Regions from separate parts of the Homo sapiens genome. Here region 2 is linked to region 1. The links come from fine-mapping of genetic effects on gene expression. A gene starts in region 1. The other region holds a variant in brackets. All regions are shown on one strand. Distances are between the middles of the regions.

The links.
Region 2: its variant is fine-mapped to the expression of SCYL3 in whole blood (TOPMed, PIP 0.94).

Annotation. Positions count from the first base shown.
Region 1 is chr1:169,890,123-169,898,644 of GRCh38, forward strand. It overlaps SCYL3 (SCY1 like pseudokinase 3), which reads right to left and starts at 3,774. Exons shown (of 13, transcript NM_020423.7): 1 at 3,666-3,774. RefSeq lists enhancers at 2,942-3,529, 3,530-4,117, 3,792-4,201 and silencers at 3,212-3,271, 3,512-3,591.
Region 2 is chr1:169,783,457-169,791,978 of GRCh38, forward strand. It overlaps a transcript of FIRRM not described here. Among named protein-coding and RNA genes, the nearest start is that of METTL18, 7.2 kb to the right of the region's middle. The variant T/A (reference allele first, on the strand shown) is at 5,081.

The sequences.
Region 1 (8,522 bases):
CTGAAGACAGTGGCTATCACAGAGTTCCAACCAGGACTGCAGTTTCAGAACTGTCAGATCATGCCACTTATCGTGAGGAACCAAGAGCCTGAATAGTTTTGTGGAAATCTCCATATTTTTCAATGTTGAATCAAATGTTTTCTAAACCTATATAGGCCAAACAACGTATGTCTGAAAAATCTGTGGCAGTCAGTTTTCAGTGGTGGCTTTACCATAATATAAAAATTAGAAAATAGAGTTCTTACTAACTCTGGCAATGTAGAAAGCAAACTGCTACAAATACGGCCAATAATTCTATGTAGGCCTTTAAAAATTTGTTTAAAATCTGTATTCTTTGGACAAATATAAACTCAATAATCATTACACATTGACCCTCTACTTGGAATTTTTCCCCACTTCGGTGAAATTCCATACAACACCTTCTACACTGGGTATGTAATGCTGCTCAAAACACATGCCTAGAACAAAATTTAAAGTGCCTACCGATCCACAACCATCGTTATATAAGAAACACATGTATAAAGGCTAAAGCTATCTAAAATTGAAGATTTTCAAAATCTAAAAATGTTGCTGAGAATAAGAACTAAATCTGCTTTGTAACAAATTCACTGAATTCCTACCTACCTGGCAATGTATCTTTCTTAAAAATGACAGAGAAGCAAAAAACAGTACTAAAAGAAATGCCAAGTATGGCAACTATGGTAACATTCACCTTTCTACTGGGACTACAAATAAAAAGTTTATGTGGGACCATGGGTAAAAGCAACAATGCTAATCCCTCTGTTCTGGAGATAGAGTGCTGGCCAGATTGTCACAACCTCCTGCTGAGTAGGGAGGATTATGCTTAGCACTTGATCTTGCCACCTCTTCTTGGGCACAGTTAATGTTGGCAGGTACCTATCCTGGGCCAAAGGGCGGTTAATTCACAAATTAGCCATCAATTTCATGGCCTGAGTGAAGAGATAAACTGGCCAGATCATTGTCTCCCCCAGGAATTTGAACTAAGAACAATTTTTGCCTATTAGAAGCATAGCCGAAGGTAGAAGGATGCTATGAGGTGGAGGTGGAGCTACGGCAAACCAAAGCCACATGAAGTCAGAAACTTTCCAGAGGAAGTCAGTTGGTAGTAAAATTTTAAAAAGCAAACACTGGGACCGTAGCTTAGTCATACTTAGGGGGCACATTACTACTATCCATCTCAAGACTACCGGAAGCCCAGCCTCAAATCTAATTCCACCCAGATACCCTAACATCCCATTGACACCCTTACAACCAGCCCCCTTTTCCTCAGGTAACTTGAATGGGTCTATGTTCTTTGAAACTAATTGCCATTTCATAGGCAGAAAGCTCTACTTGGTCTCCAACTCCTGCCTGAAAAGCCAGTCAGACTGGAAGAGTGAGTTACAGAAGTGTTACTTTGAAAGTATCTGAAGCTAGTCTGACCGTCTCTCTCTCACCCACAAAACACAGCTTTCCAAAATCAACACACAATTAAGAGAAAAGCAGAGAATAAGGGACTGTATATTAATGAATATCTTCTTCGCAGGAAATCATGCTGTTTATTTAAGTGTTAATATTAATCCTCATGGGAGATAAGACTGCCACCAGGATTCAGGGTCAGTGCTCTGGCTGATGAATGGCAGTCACCAGAGGCAAGAGAAAGGAACATTTAATTTACTTAGCTATTTCTAAATAGCAAAATACTTCCTTGTGGGAACATTGGCCTTGCAATAGCTATTAACCTTAGATTTCATATGAATTCCACTATAATTAACAAAGTTATAAAAGCATTAGGAAGTAGTTAAAATTCATTTTTCTTACTGTATTTTAGGTCTAAGACTAAAAAAATCACTTAAAAATTAAAAAGGGATGACTCAATTTCTTGAGAGAACTGGAAAGGATGCCATTTTCTTGTTTTGAAAGCATGTTAACTTTGACAGAAGTCCACTGATACCATCAGTGTAATACTGACAGTGGTAAGATTATATTGTATGTTCCCAGTGCAAACTTTATTGGGGGAAAATTAAAAAGGTGTGCTGATTATTGCAATTTGAGAATGTTTTGAAGCAGTAATTCTTCACACTAATATATCTAAAGAAGCACAAATACTGTTATATGAAGAAGTTTTTTTGTTTGTTTTTTGTTTTAAATAGAGATATGGTCTTGTTCTGTTGCTGCTGGCCTAGAGTGCATTGGCGCTATCCTATCTCACTGTAACCTGGAATTCCTGGGCTCAAGCTACCTGCCCTCCCCAGCCTCCCTAGTTGCTGAGATTACAGGCATGTGCCACCATGCCCGCCAGTGCTTTAAAAATGATAATTCAGCTAAAATTGATTTATTGAAATGTAAGAAAAACACTTGGCCTTCCAAAATGCTTTCCTGTTGTTTTGAGGACGGGGAAAACACAAAATCTTGCTCATTAGCTTTGAAATTAAAAAGTCACAAGAAGGTAGAAAAGGATATCCTAGTATCCCGTAATAGGTATTTCGTAGCACTTAGCATCTCCACTCTATAATAAAATGCTGAGTTGACAGTCTCTGACTTGAATATGCATCAGTCTTCCCTTTAATAATCTCCCTCCACTCTTTTGCCTACTTGGGCAGCACATAAAATTTCTGGACCGCTTGTAGATTAAGAAAACCCTTGTCTAGGTCAAAGGGCAACTCATACACTCAACTAAGAAACCCGTGTGCTCTATGGAAATGTTTCTACCAAATATTTTCTTTTCCCAGCAATTACTCGAGACTACCTTGGTCCTAGCTCCCTTAGCTTGAAAGTTCCAAAGATAATGGCTTGCACTCTGAGTATTAAGGATGCACTGTACTGGCTGATATTCTGGTATCCAGCGGTAACGTTACTCCGGCCCTTGCTTTCGTGTTTCAGGTATATATTCCCTCTGCGGAACTCAGTCCAGCATTGCTAGCTGACAAGCAATACACAATTAAGTCTTTATGGACCAAAATAATTGTGATTTCAGCTCAAGATACATTTTATAAGAACATGGGTCCCTAAAAACAGCAGTTAACAGTGACCCCCAAAATTCGAGACCCGACTCCGAGAATTTCACATGGATTCCTGAATATGCTCTTCCGAGAAATGTTTCATCTTTATTCTAAACAGAAAGCACTATGCCAAGACAGGAGCCAGCTGGGCCTTGGGGGACGGGCACTGGTCTTGGATCAAGAATGAGGCCGCCTTCCCGAGGGCGGGCGCGCCCCCAGGATCCCCCCGGGCTCGGGCACTGCCGCCCCGGGACAGTGACCCGCCCAGCCGAGCACCCTCGCCCTGCTTGCCGCGACCCCGCGGGGTCACTGAAGGGCCGAGGCGCCGCTCTCGCTTCGCTGGCCCCTCACCTTCCACACCTCCCTGCGAGGACCGACTCCGCGGCCGCCTTGGAGAGCTCTGGCCGCGGGCGCCTCACCCGTCGGGGGCCGCCCGCGAAGCGCAGATTACAGGGCGCCCCACAATCAGCAAGGGGAGGCTGCTCCGAAGCTGAGAGCACAGCTCAACCGGCCGCCGGCGCCGCGCCGAGCTCGCTCCCGCGCGGGCCCCAGAGCGCAGACCCGCGAGCGGGGCGCGCGCCCGCCGCCTCCTCCCCGCCCGGCCCCTTCCCCCACGGCGCAGTCCTGCAAGGACTGGGGGCGCAGCGCAGGGCTCCCTGTTACCTGCAGGAAGGCGGCGGGGGAGGAGGCCGAGGGTCTTGGCTCTGGTACCCTGTTGGCCCCCCTGTTGACACCAACCACCCCTGCCTGCCTGTAAGGCTGTGGCCACTACACCCACAATCTTCTGGGGGCCGGGTTTCTCCTACACCATAGAGACGGGTCCGGAAACGGGACAGAAGGCCCACCTTCCTCCCTCCGACGCCACCAATGAGGCCAACTAACCAGGAACCGAGGTAGAGAGGCCGCACAGCTGAGTCTCAGGCCGGTGCCATCTTAAGTGTGGGCGCCGCGACGATACCGAGTTTCACTCACTGCCCCAGTGGTCTAGTTAGTCCACGAAGATGCCCCCTTTCTAGATGTGTTGGTCGAATGCTTAAGTTTGTCTTGACTTGAATTTTTAGGCTTTTAACAGCACAGTTTTAATTTCATTTCCGCCCAAATCCAAAATGGCTGCTGGCCACTTGTAGCAAACAGTAGAGGTGCAGGGCGGAGAAAAGGAGTACGGGAATTAGCGAGGACTTTCAGGAGAGTGACGTCACTCAACCTGTAGCTTTGATTGGCTGGGCTGCGAGGGTGGAGTCGTGCAGAGCCGCTGCTGGCGGAGGTCGTGGTGATCTCGCTTGATCTTTGAGAGGGAAGGTCCTGAATCACATTTCATTTAGCAAAAAGTAATATTTGAAAATTTTAATATTAATGCAGTAGTTTTGCCCCCCTCCATGCTTTCTGCAGTGTCAGTTACCTGTGGTCAAACCTTGGTTCAGAAATGTTAAATGGAAAACTCCAGAAATAAACAATTCTTAAGTTTCAAACCGCCTGTATTCTGAGTAGCCCGATTAAATCTCGGGCCATCCACTCTGTCCCACCCTTGACGCGAATCATCTGTCGCAGGTAGCCGCGCTGTGTACAGTATCCACTCATTACCCACTCAGTAGCTGCTTTGGTTAACAGATGCACCCGTAGTATAGCAGAGATAATGAGAGATACCACCTGCTTATGTTCAGGTAACCCTTATTTTACTTAATAATGGCCGCAAAGCACAGGAATTGTGCTGACAATTTGGATATGCCGAGGAGAAGCTGTAAAGTGCTTCCTTTAAATGAAAAGGTGAAAGCTCTGGACTTAATAAGGAAAGAAAAAGAGTCATATGCTGAGGTTGCCAAAATCTATGATAAGAACAAATTATCCATGAAATTGTGAAGAAGGAAAAAGATTCGTGCTAGTTAACTAAGCACCTATCATGCACTGTGGCTGTAACTTTTGTAGTTTGAGGTGCAACAGCAAAAGACGGAAAAGGCATTACATTTGTGGGTGGGAGACATGAACAGAAAACGTATTTCAGCTGACCGCAGTAAGTTTTGCCAGAAAGTGTTGAGCCTATAGGAAGACTTAAGAAAGGGATCCCCTGAAATTAGGCACACCAAGCTATTTACTGCAAGTAAGGGATGGCTACACAGATTCAGGAATAGGTTTGGACTGAAAAACATAAAAATAACTGGAGAGGCCACATCTGCTGATGAAGAAGCTGCCACATGTCTGGCAGAGTTGAAGACATTGGTTAAGGAGAAAGGCTTCCAGGAGATTGATGGATAAGTTAGGAAAATCATTCAGGTAGCAATGAAACTGCCTTTGCAAAATTATGACTAAGGCAGTTAAAGAGATCCAATTTAACCAACTCCATCTTGTCCTTAACCTCCATGCTATCCTTGTTCATTCCTGGGCATAGGCTGAACTAACTTTGGAAGGAAATTAGTTTATAATTTACAGTTTAAAACAAAAACAATAAAAGCCCTTTCCCAAAACCAACCTCCTTCTTGCCTGGGGTCTAGACTACCAACATTAGCCACAAGATTAGAAATTATGGTTTGGGAGTCATGCAGCTGGAGGCCACAAGATTCTGACCCTCCCTAAACTGCTCCTGAGATCAGTGCTTCAGATGTTTTGCAGACCCTGCACTTGATGGATCAGCTGGCAACACCCAGATGATAAACTGGCCCATCTGATCTTGTGACCCCCACCCAGAACTGACTCAGTTCAAGAAGACAGTGATGCCCCATAGTTTCATCTCCGACCCAACCAATCAGCACTCCCTGACTTACTGCCCCTCCCCACCCACCAAATTGTCTTTAAAAACTCGACTGCTGGAGGAGACTGATTTGAGTAATAATAAAACTCTGGCCCCCCACACAGCCAGCTCTGCATGAATTCTTTGTCTATTGCAATTCCCCGTCTTGATAAATTGGCTCTATCTAGGCAGACGGCAAGGTGAACCTACTGGGCGGTTATAGCAAGACAAGTTGGTGAAAAAGGATTTGTCAATATGCTTGATGAAGAGGTGGGAGAACATATCAAAGGCCTCACTATCCATTCTGAGGACAGGTTTAACCTTCTCAAACTAGAAGCAGGGCTTAGTCACCCTGGACAGTCTCTAGTTCTGTGCCTCCTCCCACTTCCTCTATGTGGTCAGTCCAGACATCTGCCTTGTATGACCGCCTCTGGTGACCACCTCCCTATCGAACCATCAGGTACAAGCTGCTTGCTTCATCCCCTTGACCCCTATACCCCACATATACTTTGCAGATATGCCTCAGTGACCACCTCTTAGTCACAGTGGGACTAAGATGTTGGACCCAGGACCACAGTGAAGGCTTTGGCCCGCAAGTCCCTCTCTCTGTCTCGTCCCCCTCCCACTGGTTGAGCATGTGTGTCCCCCTTCTCATTGGCCCTGTGAGGCATGCTGTCCTCTTATTATGGATCTGTAAGTAATGAAACTGCTTCTATTATTTCACATGTTTTGTTCACCTCCTCTGTGTCTCACCTGACCTATACACCCACACCTGACTTGTTTCCTGGTTAGGGCTCTCCTAGAGAGTGGCTGTCTTGGTTGGAATAAACCAGACACGGGGCAGACAAGAGCCACAAATGTGCCTGCTAATATAAACAAGCTTCCTGTGAGAGGGACCTCCTGTCATGGGTCAGACACCTAGGATTTAGGCCGTCTGCCAGGATAAAGAAGTATTCCATGGAAGGCACACTGTAAATATCCAAGCCCCATCACGGAAGAGCTAACGTTTATAACCACTCCCAGAGAGAGACCTCGAGACCGAATTAGAAAAGAAATACAACACATAGACCCTAGGTTTACTAGCTCCAACATCCATTCCCACTCCTCACCCCCTTCTCCCTTGTTCACCTTCGATAAAGAAGTTAAGAAATCAAAAAGATCACTTTCTGAGCCTACTTTCCCGCTAGGGTGGTCACAAGTTCTGGCCGGTGAGACATAGCAGAAGTTGGGAGGAAGATAGACAGTGGATTAGGAAAGGTTTTTCCTCCCTATTAAAGGAAATGGCTGTGGGTGTAACAGCAGCAGCCACCCAAGCACCAGGAGACAGCGGGAGAACATGCTGAGGATGTCGATTTGAAAGACAGAAGGATTCTCTTGCCTTTCACACTATCCCTCGAGAGTTCATAACTATGTTTTTCCTCCTTTTACAGGAGGAGTAGAGATGAGTCCCTTCAACCAGTACGTGAAATCTTCTGCAGTCAACACAGCTACTTGCTGGCCCACCCTCTTCCCAGTGTCCTCACCTCTGAGTCTTTGCTGGCCTTCCCACCCTGTTCCTTGCTCCCTAATCTTATGTCCAGATGTGCTGAGCTCCAGGGTATCCTCTATAATCATTCATCAGCCTAGAGGACTCTGTATTTCCTTTCATTTCCCCAAGGTAAACCCACTCCTCCAAATATCAATGAGAAGGGAATATTTTGCAGTGAATGGAGTAGGAGAGAGATGGGAGGGAGTTTGACACTCAGTCCTTCCCCTCTTCACTCTTCATCTACTCACCTATTTGCTCTTGATGTCACTCAGGTCTCTGAACAAATGTCACCTGTTCAGACTCTTAAAGATTTGGGGCATTGAAATCACAGGCTAACTTGTATATTTTTGTCCAACAAAGATGCAAATCTTTCTGTCCAGTGGAAAAGTTAACCCCAAAGTTTATTCTTATTGCACTAGAGAGCATTTCTCATTTTAAAATCTAATCTAGTAATCTTACTGTATTTCTTTATAAAATTGCTTGTAAGTATGTAGCTACACAAATGCTCTTTGAACAGTCTTAATGTCTTTTTAGTTTCCTCATTAACTAATGTGTTCATTTTATATTTGCATGAGAGTTATAATTATATTTTGAAAATTCTACTTGAATGCAATTTATCAGAGACAGCTCCCCTGAAAACACTGTCTAAAACAGCACCTTACCTGCCTCTTCCTGTCTTTTGACTTTGCCTTATTTTGCTTAACACCAATGCACATATTTGTTCAGCATCTCTGTCCCACAGCTAGAACATCAGCTCCCTGAAAACAGGGCTTCCTTCCTTCATTTCTTTCTTTCCTGCCATATTTCTAGCACATAACACAGTGCCTAGAACATACTAGGTACTCAGTAAATATTAAACACACAAATGAATTTACTGAGAGCACACTGCATGTCCCAGGCACCCTCCCTACATCTCTCTGCCTCCCAGCCCTTACCCCACAGAGCCCTCTATAGCTCTGGTTCCAGTTCTCAGTTCCCTGGAGCTGCTCTCTGAGCTCCTTCTGCCTTTCTTATGCATAGAAATCTTGTATTCCCTCACTGATTCCTCAGTCCTCATTTTAAATATGTCTAAGGCCAGGAAAGAAAAGAATCTCCAACAACCTGAATCCGCTGTCCTTGGAATGTGGCTGGTGGGACAGTTAGAAACAAATAGTTTGTTTTCTTAATAGAAATAATTTTTTCTTGTCATACTGTTTAAGGATCAACCTGAATTTTACTTCCAACCAATCCTCTTCTTAATTCAAATCAAAACATGTCAATGGTATTCAGC
Region 2 (8,522 bases), 110 kb before region 1:
AACTTTCTTCCATATACACCCTATTACAGGGATATAGTCTTACTCTATAGCTCAAAAGGATGACCCTATCAGAAACCTGCACAGTATGTAAAACATTCTCACCAGAGGTTCACTTGTGTATTTCCACCCTAGAATGGAAGCTCTACAAAAGCACAGAATGTATCATTTTAACTTTAGATTCTATTTTCACACCCAGTGCTTGACACATGATTTGAAGTTAATATTTATTTATCAAGTGATTGTTTTAAAATCATGACTCACTCAACAAAGTTATAAGAATAAGAATAGTGTTACAGAATTGGTATACACAAGCTGACCATAATCAACACACCTATTATCATTTTTTTGCGACAGGTTCTCGCTGTCTCACCCTGGCTGGAGTGGAGTGGCATGACCACGGTTCACTGCAGGTTTGAACTTCCAGGCTCAAGCAATCCTCCCACCTCAGCCTCCCACATAGCTGAGCCCACAGGTGTGTGCCACCATGTCCAGCTAACTTTTTAATTCTTTGTAGAGACAGGGTCACCCTATGTTGCCCAAGCTGGTCTTGAACTCCTTGGCTAGAGAGATCCTCCCTCCAAGGTCCCCCAAAATGCTGGGATCTCAGGCAAGAGCCACCATGCCTGGCCATAATCAATACACTTTTAAGAATGCTAGAATGTTATATCAGATGCATACTTCAGCACTATCTCAAGCAAACTGGGGTGTGGGTTATTCTACATATAAAGTTCAGCAGTGTTGTTCCACAGTCCCAAACTCCAACTGAGGTCAAATGTAGGGTGCAGCAAGGTCACTGGGGCTGTCATCAAGGGCCTCTCCTTGCACTCTTGCCAACCCTGTTTCTTGATTGTCTCTACCACCATGAGTCACCAGCAATCTCCCACAGTCACTTGTTTAAAAGTTCACAAGTATTGTGTGAATTGCAGGCAACCCCTTGACTCCCTGATTGCCTGGTCTTCTTCCTTGGGCTCTACCATTTTTTTTCCCCAGCACTCTTTCTGCTGCTCTAAATTTTAATTCATGCAATTCCATATGTGTTTCTCTATCATTCTTCATCTCTTTCCTCTCCCTTCCATCCAATTTTGTTTGTCTGTTTGCTTGCTTGCTTGCTTTAATACATTTCTCTTTTTCTGAGAAGGCTTGAGTCCAAAACTCTCAGTTACCTGTTGTTCTGTTTCCCGTTAGTTAATCTCCGAACCTTCATAAATTAAATCTGACAAAGTCCCCTGACTAACAAAGGAAATGCACAAGTCACAGTAAAAGGGGCACACACAGAACACAAATAGACCCAGGGTCTTTTCTGTTCATCACTCAGCTTTTTATAGGAGATCCAGGAGAAATGAAGTGGAAAGGGAAGTGTGTTGAGTTACTATACAACACAAGAGTAAACTTTCTTATAAGTGGTAATTTTTTTTTACAGGAATAATTGAAAATGGAAATTACCTTCTCTACTCATAGTAAGTACTCAGTGCGTTCTTGATGGGATGAGAATGTGTTTGAGCTTTAGTGTAAGGCAGAATTCTGTTTAGTCTGCCAGTATTGGAGAAAAATAAAACACAAAGGGACTGACATGTAGGAAGTGGCACCTGGGAGGGTCTCAATTCTTCCTATTACAAAAATGCCCCAGAGAAATAAAAAGCTTGTGTACATGTTGAGATGGGAGAGTTCTCTGGCCCCCCTCGCAGGATGTGTGACAGTGGGGTGGCTCTCTGCTGCGCCACCATGAGCTCAAACCCCTCATAGGAGGGGGAGCACACAGGCAGGAAGGTGCAGGAGCTGGGCGAGCTCTTTGGGCTCTGGCCCCGTGGTACTGTCTAGAGGTGGGTGCCTGCAACTCCTGAAAGCCCAAGTGGGCATGTGTTACAGTGCACTCTTTCAGCTTTGCTGTCTGCAGCTTAAGCGTTAACCAGCTCAGTTTCTTCTTGGTACCCAGGTCCTTGTCTGGCATCCAGGAAGAATCAGGTTACACATGGACTTGAAGGATGAATGTGGGAGTTTTATGGAGTGGTGGAGGTGGCTCTCAGTGGGATGGATGGGGAGCTGGAAGGGGGATGGAGTGGGAAGATGATATTCTCCTGGAGTTTGGCTGTCCAGCAGCCGATCTCCTCTCCAGTCGTCCCCAGCCTCTCGACGTTCAGATGCTCCTCTTCTCTCCTTCTCTGCCATGCTGTTCTGCCGTTCATCTGCCTGTCTCTCTCTGGAGCCTGGAATTTGGGGTTTATATGGTACACAATAAGGGGCATGGCAGGCCAAAAGGGAACTTTTTAGGTGCAAAAAACAGGAATGCCTCTTCTCACTTAGGGCTATAGATTTTCAGGCTTGAAGGTGGGGCCTTTACCAGCGAACCTGTATTTCCCTGTCTCCTGTGCATATCAATGTAATCAAATACTGGGCTGATCCAGGATGTTTCTTTAGACCAATTATGGGTAAAATAATTTACATTCAGGTTTTTATATTTGCTTTTGTCATTTCTTTTTAAGCAATCATGTAAAATATCTATACGACAGTAATAGATGATAGCGAACCTAATTAAAATTACCAGAAACTTAAGAATCTCTAATGATTTCAACTGTAACTAAGGTTATTTCTCTTTATGTTGAACAATGTTGGGAGATAAGACACAAGAGTTTCTGAAGTATTTCAGAAACACAAAGAGGGAGGTTATATAAATAATATTTTTTTCCTACTTTGGGAAAATGAAAGCTAGTCACAAAGTTAAACGAGTGGTTATTTTAATATTTAAAATACAGGCTTGGATGTATTTCCTGTTAAAGAAAATAAAATGCAGAATATTCAAAACGTCTGACCACCCTTCTAAGAAAATGCATCTCTGAGGTATTTTTCCTTAGAAGTTATTGTAAAAATCCTGGAGAAGCTTGAACACAGCAAAGCAAACAGGATGCAGAGTTTAATCTGTGGAAAGCTTAGGGAAGAAAAGCAAATCATTAAAAATAGGTCTTCCTCTGAAGATTTTTAAAACGCAAAGAGGGTGGAATAGCAATGATAATAAAAAAGCTGGCATAGAGAGTGGCACAATTTGCTGTGCCACTGAGCTGACTGGATGTGTTCTGAATTTCTAGGCATTAGTGTACCTTTCCACACGCATTCTCCCTTTAAAAAAAATGCCCACACACTGAATACTTTTTTCATGCAATTTAAAATAAGCGCACCATCTAGTTTACAGAAATTCACTAGAAGTTATTTATCCTAAAATAGCAGAGATCTAGAAGAATTTTGAGCTCTAGGACATTTTAGACACACAGAAAGAAGAATCTGGACAAGTCTTGACCAGACATGACAGAATAGAAATTTCTTTTCCTATTTATCTCTTTGAATAAAATTTTCAGGATCTTACAGTGGACAAGTTTGTTATCTACACATTGTGAAGCACATTGATTTCTCCTCTGTAGCCTTAGGAAGATCTGAGAGGTGACTGAGCTGATTGAATGATCCGTGACCGCTCTACTGGGACCAGTAGTAGAACTTTACTGGTGGAGACCTGCTGGAGGTTTGAGAGCAGACTTTGAAAATTACTAGAGCTACACAGATACTGTGTGGCTAACTGGATTATGTTTAGAGGCTTTCAGAACTATGCTGCTGCTGCTGCAGTGTAGCCAGGACGCACAGAGAACATCTAAGGCTCTTGAATGGGGCGATAGGGACAGATTTCAGCAGCCATCTGACTTCAGTGCTCATTTTGATGCTTTCCCTGCAGGGTGCAGTGTGCAGTGTGCAGTGTGCAGTGGTGGGAGGCTCACACAGGAATACTTGCTTCTGTAGCCCTAATTTCCGGTTCAAACTCTGCATTCACCTTGACAGATTCTTTCCTTGGCCAAAATTTAGTTAGGCTTCTGGGCTTTCTCTTATGCCCACCTGCAGACTTTTTGGTAAAATCCAGTTTTAGTAAAGAGCTCTGCTAAGTCAGTTTAGCAAGAATCCCCACCTCAAAAGTCACTATCTCCCTCCCTGGTAGTGTCTGGCTTGTCTTCAGCGAGAATTCTATTAGGTTCTGTTAGATTAGAATCCTCCTTACCCTTGATGCTTCCTCTTAGTATTTTTTCATCCACTGACTCCTTGACCCACCTTGCTCCTCGGCTATAAATTCCCACTTGCCCATACTCTGCAGTTAAGACTATTTTCTCCCCACTACTGCAAAATCCCATTGCCATGGTCCCTATACTATCTCAATGGTAATGAATAAAGTCTGCCTTACCATGCTTTAACAAGTAACATTGAACCATTTTTTTCTTTAACAATCTGCTGCACAATGAGATTACTAAAACTTTATTCCATTTTGCCATGCTGGATGTCCTCAATGGAATGGCTCTTGTGAGCACCAAATCATTGTGAGAAGGAAAACCCATCTCTTACAGCCCCCTGTAACGTGATGTATGTTACATGTGATGTATGTTACATAGTTTTTTTTCATGTTGATCACTTTTTGCCCATTTTCCTATATCTTATCAGTTGGAAGACTGTGGAAGTTTGTAGTACTAAGCCACAAGATGACTAAGAAGAGTTGAAAGGGCAAGTGGGGCTAAAAACAGATTTTGTTTGACTTACCCCACCATTCCCCCTATCATGGGGCTGAATCTGCCTGGAGGAAGGAGCATCTTTATCTTTGTACTGTGAACCACACAGTCTAGCAGCAGCACAGCCAAGGCACTTGGGGTTTCATGAGACTAAGTACATGCAATTCTATTGTAAAGGCTTAAAATATATACAACTGACCCTTGAACAACATGAATTTGAATTGCATGGTCAGTTATACGCAGATTTTCTTCCACCTCTGCCACCCCTGAGACAGTAAGATCAATCAATCCTCTTCCTCCTACTCCTCAGTCTACTCAAAGATACTTGAAGTCTACTTGAAGATGACAAGCACAAAGACATTTATGATGATCCACTTCCACTTAGTGAATAGTAAATATGTTTTCTCTTCCTCCTAATTTTTTAACACTTTCTTCTCTCTAGCTTAATTTATTGTTAAGAATACAATCTATAATACATATGACATACAAAATATGTCTTAGTTGACTGTTTATGTTATCTGTAAGGCTTCAGGTCAAGAGTATGCTAT[T/A]AGTGGTTAAGTTTTCGAGGAGTCAAAAGGTGTATGTGGACTTTCAACTGCAGGGGGGTGGGCACCCCTGCCCCCATGTTGTTCAAGGGTCAACTTTACTGCCAAAGGCAAGCCTTTACATCCACTTTTTCCATCCCATCAGTAAATGGAAAAAGATAGCTACAGTATCCCTGCGTCAAATCTTTTTTTTTGCAGATCACAAATTGGCCACTCACCTTGCTCTGTGAGGGGTAAAATGCCCCACTTTCTTTAGTAATATTTAAGTTAGATAATATTTAAGTTATAAAGTTGTTCTTTGTAATCGTTAATTGTAATTTTTACATAGTTTCTTTCAAACAGAAATAGCATTTTTGTTAGATAACCTCCCGTATAGATGATGAAACTCCTTTTAAGGGCTATCTGAATTTTAATTCCTTGAAAAGGCAGAAATTGGATAGCTAGTAGTCATAAATGTACTGTGGCTTCCCCCAACCATCTGGGCTATATAGAAGCTGCATCCTTGGACTGCAGTAGAGGAGTCTTACAAAGCACAGAGCAACTTCTCTCCTGGGTTGCGCTAGTTATGATGGCAATTTTAAATGTGTACTTTTACCCAAAGAAAATCCTTATTATCAACAATCACAATGCCATCATAACCATGGTATAAAAAATTCAAAATGTCCCAGCTGAAGTGGAGGCAAAGACTCAAGTTCATGGAGTCAGAGTTTCCTTGCTATTCCTCTTTTTCAAATGACCATTTAGTAAGCACCTGAAGAAAATACTATGGACGGCATTGAAAAGTGAAGATAGGTTTAATCTTCTCGAAAATCTAATTCTCCAGATGAAACGCTGACACTTATCCACCCCACAGACCCTATAGCAGATGTGTCACTGGCCATCACATTTGACACAGAGAAGTCATAACTCAGTCAGCACAGAGACATTTCCATGAGTTTCTGAACCATGGACAGAACGTCGTCTGTGGGACATGAAAACTGGAACTTAGAGGACAGGCACATCTGAGAAATGGGCAGTTTAAAGGCAGAACATAGCACATATGTGACTGGGTTTTAGAAGCAAATTTACAAGACGCACTCTTCTTCATCCTAAATAATCTGCAACCAAAGCTTCCAAAAAAGACAATTTAGGAATGCAGAGGTGAGGAGTAGGGAGGGGAATGGGATGAGAGAGAGTGGAGATTAATGGTGGGCAGAGCGAGGTTTAGAACTTAGTGGTTTCTTCAGGTTCTGAACTGAAATTTGTATACTGTAAAGGCACAAACACCATTTTTAACAAAAGTGAGCAGGACTTCCTATCTGGTTCAGAAAATAGGTGAATAAATAGTACGAATTATTAAAAATAATAATTTCCACTTATACATAGGAAACTTGATAGGAACCATGATAAATGCTTAACTCTTAATCTTCAAGGAACTCTGCTAGGGATATAATATTATAAATCTTGTTTTGCAGATGGAGAAATTGAATTTTAACCCAAGTTATCATAACCCTTAAATGATTAAATGATACTGTTACATGAGAAAGCTGCGTATCTGTTTCCTGGATTTGTAGCCATAATTTGTGTCTCAAGTCCCTTTTGCTGCCAGCTATCTTGGGTAGGTGTGTTCCCTTTGGGCTGTTTGATACCCCCACATTTATCTTTTTTTTTTCTCTTTTTTTGTTGAGAGAGTCTTTCCCTGTTGCCTAGGCTGGAGGGCAATGGCGCGATCTCGGCTCACTGCAACCTCCGCCTCCTGGGTTCAAGTGCTTCTCACGATTCTCTTGTCCCAGCCTCTCTAATAGCTCGGATTACTGGCATGCACCACCACGCCCACCTAATTTTGTATTTTTAGTAGACAAGGGGTTTCTCCATGTTGGTCAGGGTGGTCTCAAACTCCTGACCTCAGGTGATCTGCCTGCCTTGGCCTCCCAAAGTGCTGGGATTACAGGTGTGAGCCACCATGCCTGGCCCCAAATTTATCTTTAATGCCCCAAATTATCTAGTTCCCATGACTGGGCTTCTGCTTTGATCCTTTCTGCACTTGCTGGACCCTCTCCCTGGGAAATGAGATTGTGTCCTGAGCCCCTAGTTAGAGGCTATGTCTCTGCTGTTCCTGAATGGGCCTCCTGGATGAGACCTCATTAAAAGTCTAATTCTCTTGGAGAATTGAGAGATACCTATTTGTCTCAAAATCATTGAAACCAATTAATGTATTATGAGCCTCTATCCAGTGATTTGTACCTCAATTCCCCAATCCAGCTGTCAAGGCCAATTTGTTCTACCTTACCTAGTAGGTAAGTCTGGAATTGTAGCTGTGGCATTTTCAGTAATGGTACTCTAGGTTAGCAGTCCCCAACCTTTTTGGCACCAGGGACCAGTTTTGTGGAAGACAATTTTTCCATGAAGGGCTGGGCAGGGGAGTGGTTTCAGGATGAAACTGTTCCACCTCAGATCATCAGGCATTAGATTCTCACAAGGAGTGCGCAAGCTAGATCCCTCACACATGCAGTTCACAATAGGGTGTGCACTCCCATGAGAATCTAACACCGCTGCTGATCTGACAGGAGACAGAGCTCAGGCAGTAATACTCATTTGCCTACCGCTCACCTCCTGCCGTGCAGCTCAGTTCCTAACAGGCCACGGACCAGTACTGGTCCACGGCGCAGGCATCAGGGACCCCTGTTGCTAGGTATAAGCATCTGGCTGCTGCATGTCTTCTGTGTAGCTACATCTGTATGTGTATCTGATGAGATATAAATTATTTGATTATAAATTACTTTCTTCATATTAGAGTTGTGAATGAGTATCACATATAATTATACATAAACTAGGAATATGCTTTTTAATAATGTATATAAGTAAGTTTCCTTAACTATGACTTTCATCTTAGCGTAGTAAGAGGGTGCTAAGAAATATTTGTGATGAAAATAGGCATTGGTAGAGTTGAGACCACTGGGTGATGAAAGAGTGTAAAGATTTTAAAGCCTTCAGATGCTGGTTCAAGGTGAGAAATGTGATTGGGAGCAAATCAATTAACTTCTTGAAGTCTTATAGGGCAGTTATGAATACTTAATGTTAACATATGTAAAGCTCTTCTGCCCTGTATACAGTAAATGCTAGTTAGCTATTATGATCACTACTAAAATGGGGATGACATAAACCTCATAAGGTTTTAAGTATTATGCAAGATACTATACAAAGTCCAGTAAATATCACATTCAATTGAATCCATGATGTCCGATTATTTTAGCTACTTCCAAGAGAGAAAAAAATGCTGTCAGTTTTACTGTTCTTATAGAGAGCAAGGCAGATCCCAATTCCCAATGTGGTAACGTGAAAATTTTTGCATTTGAATCAACAAAACACTTTCTCCTTTCTTTCCTACTATTTAACAACTGGTAAGTCTATACTCCCCCAAATCTGGAATTCTCCTTTCTTATTCTTTTTCCTCCTACCAAGACCG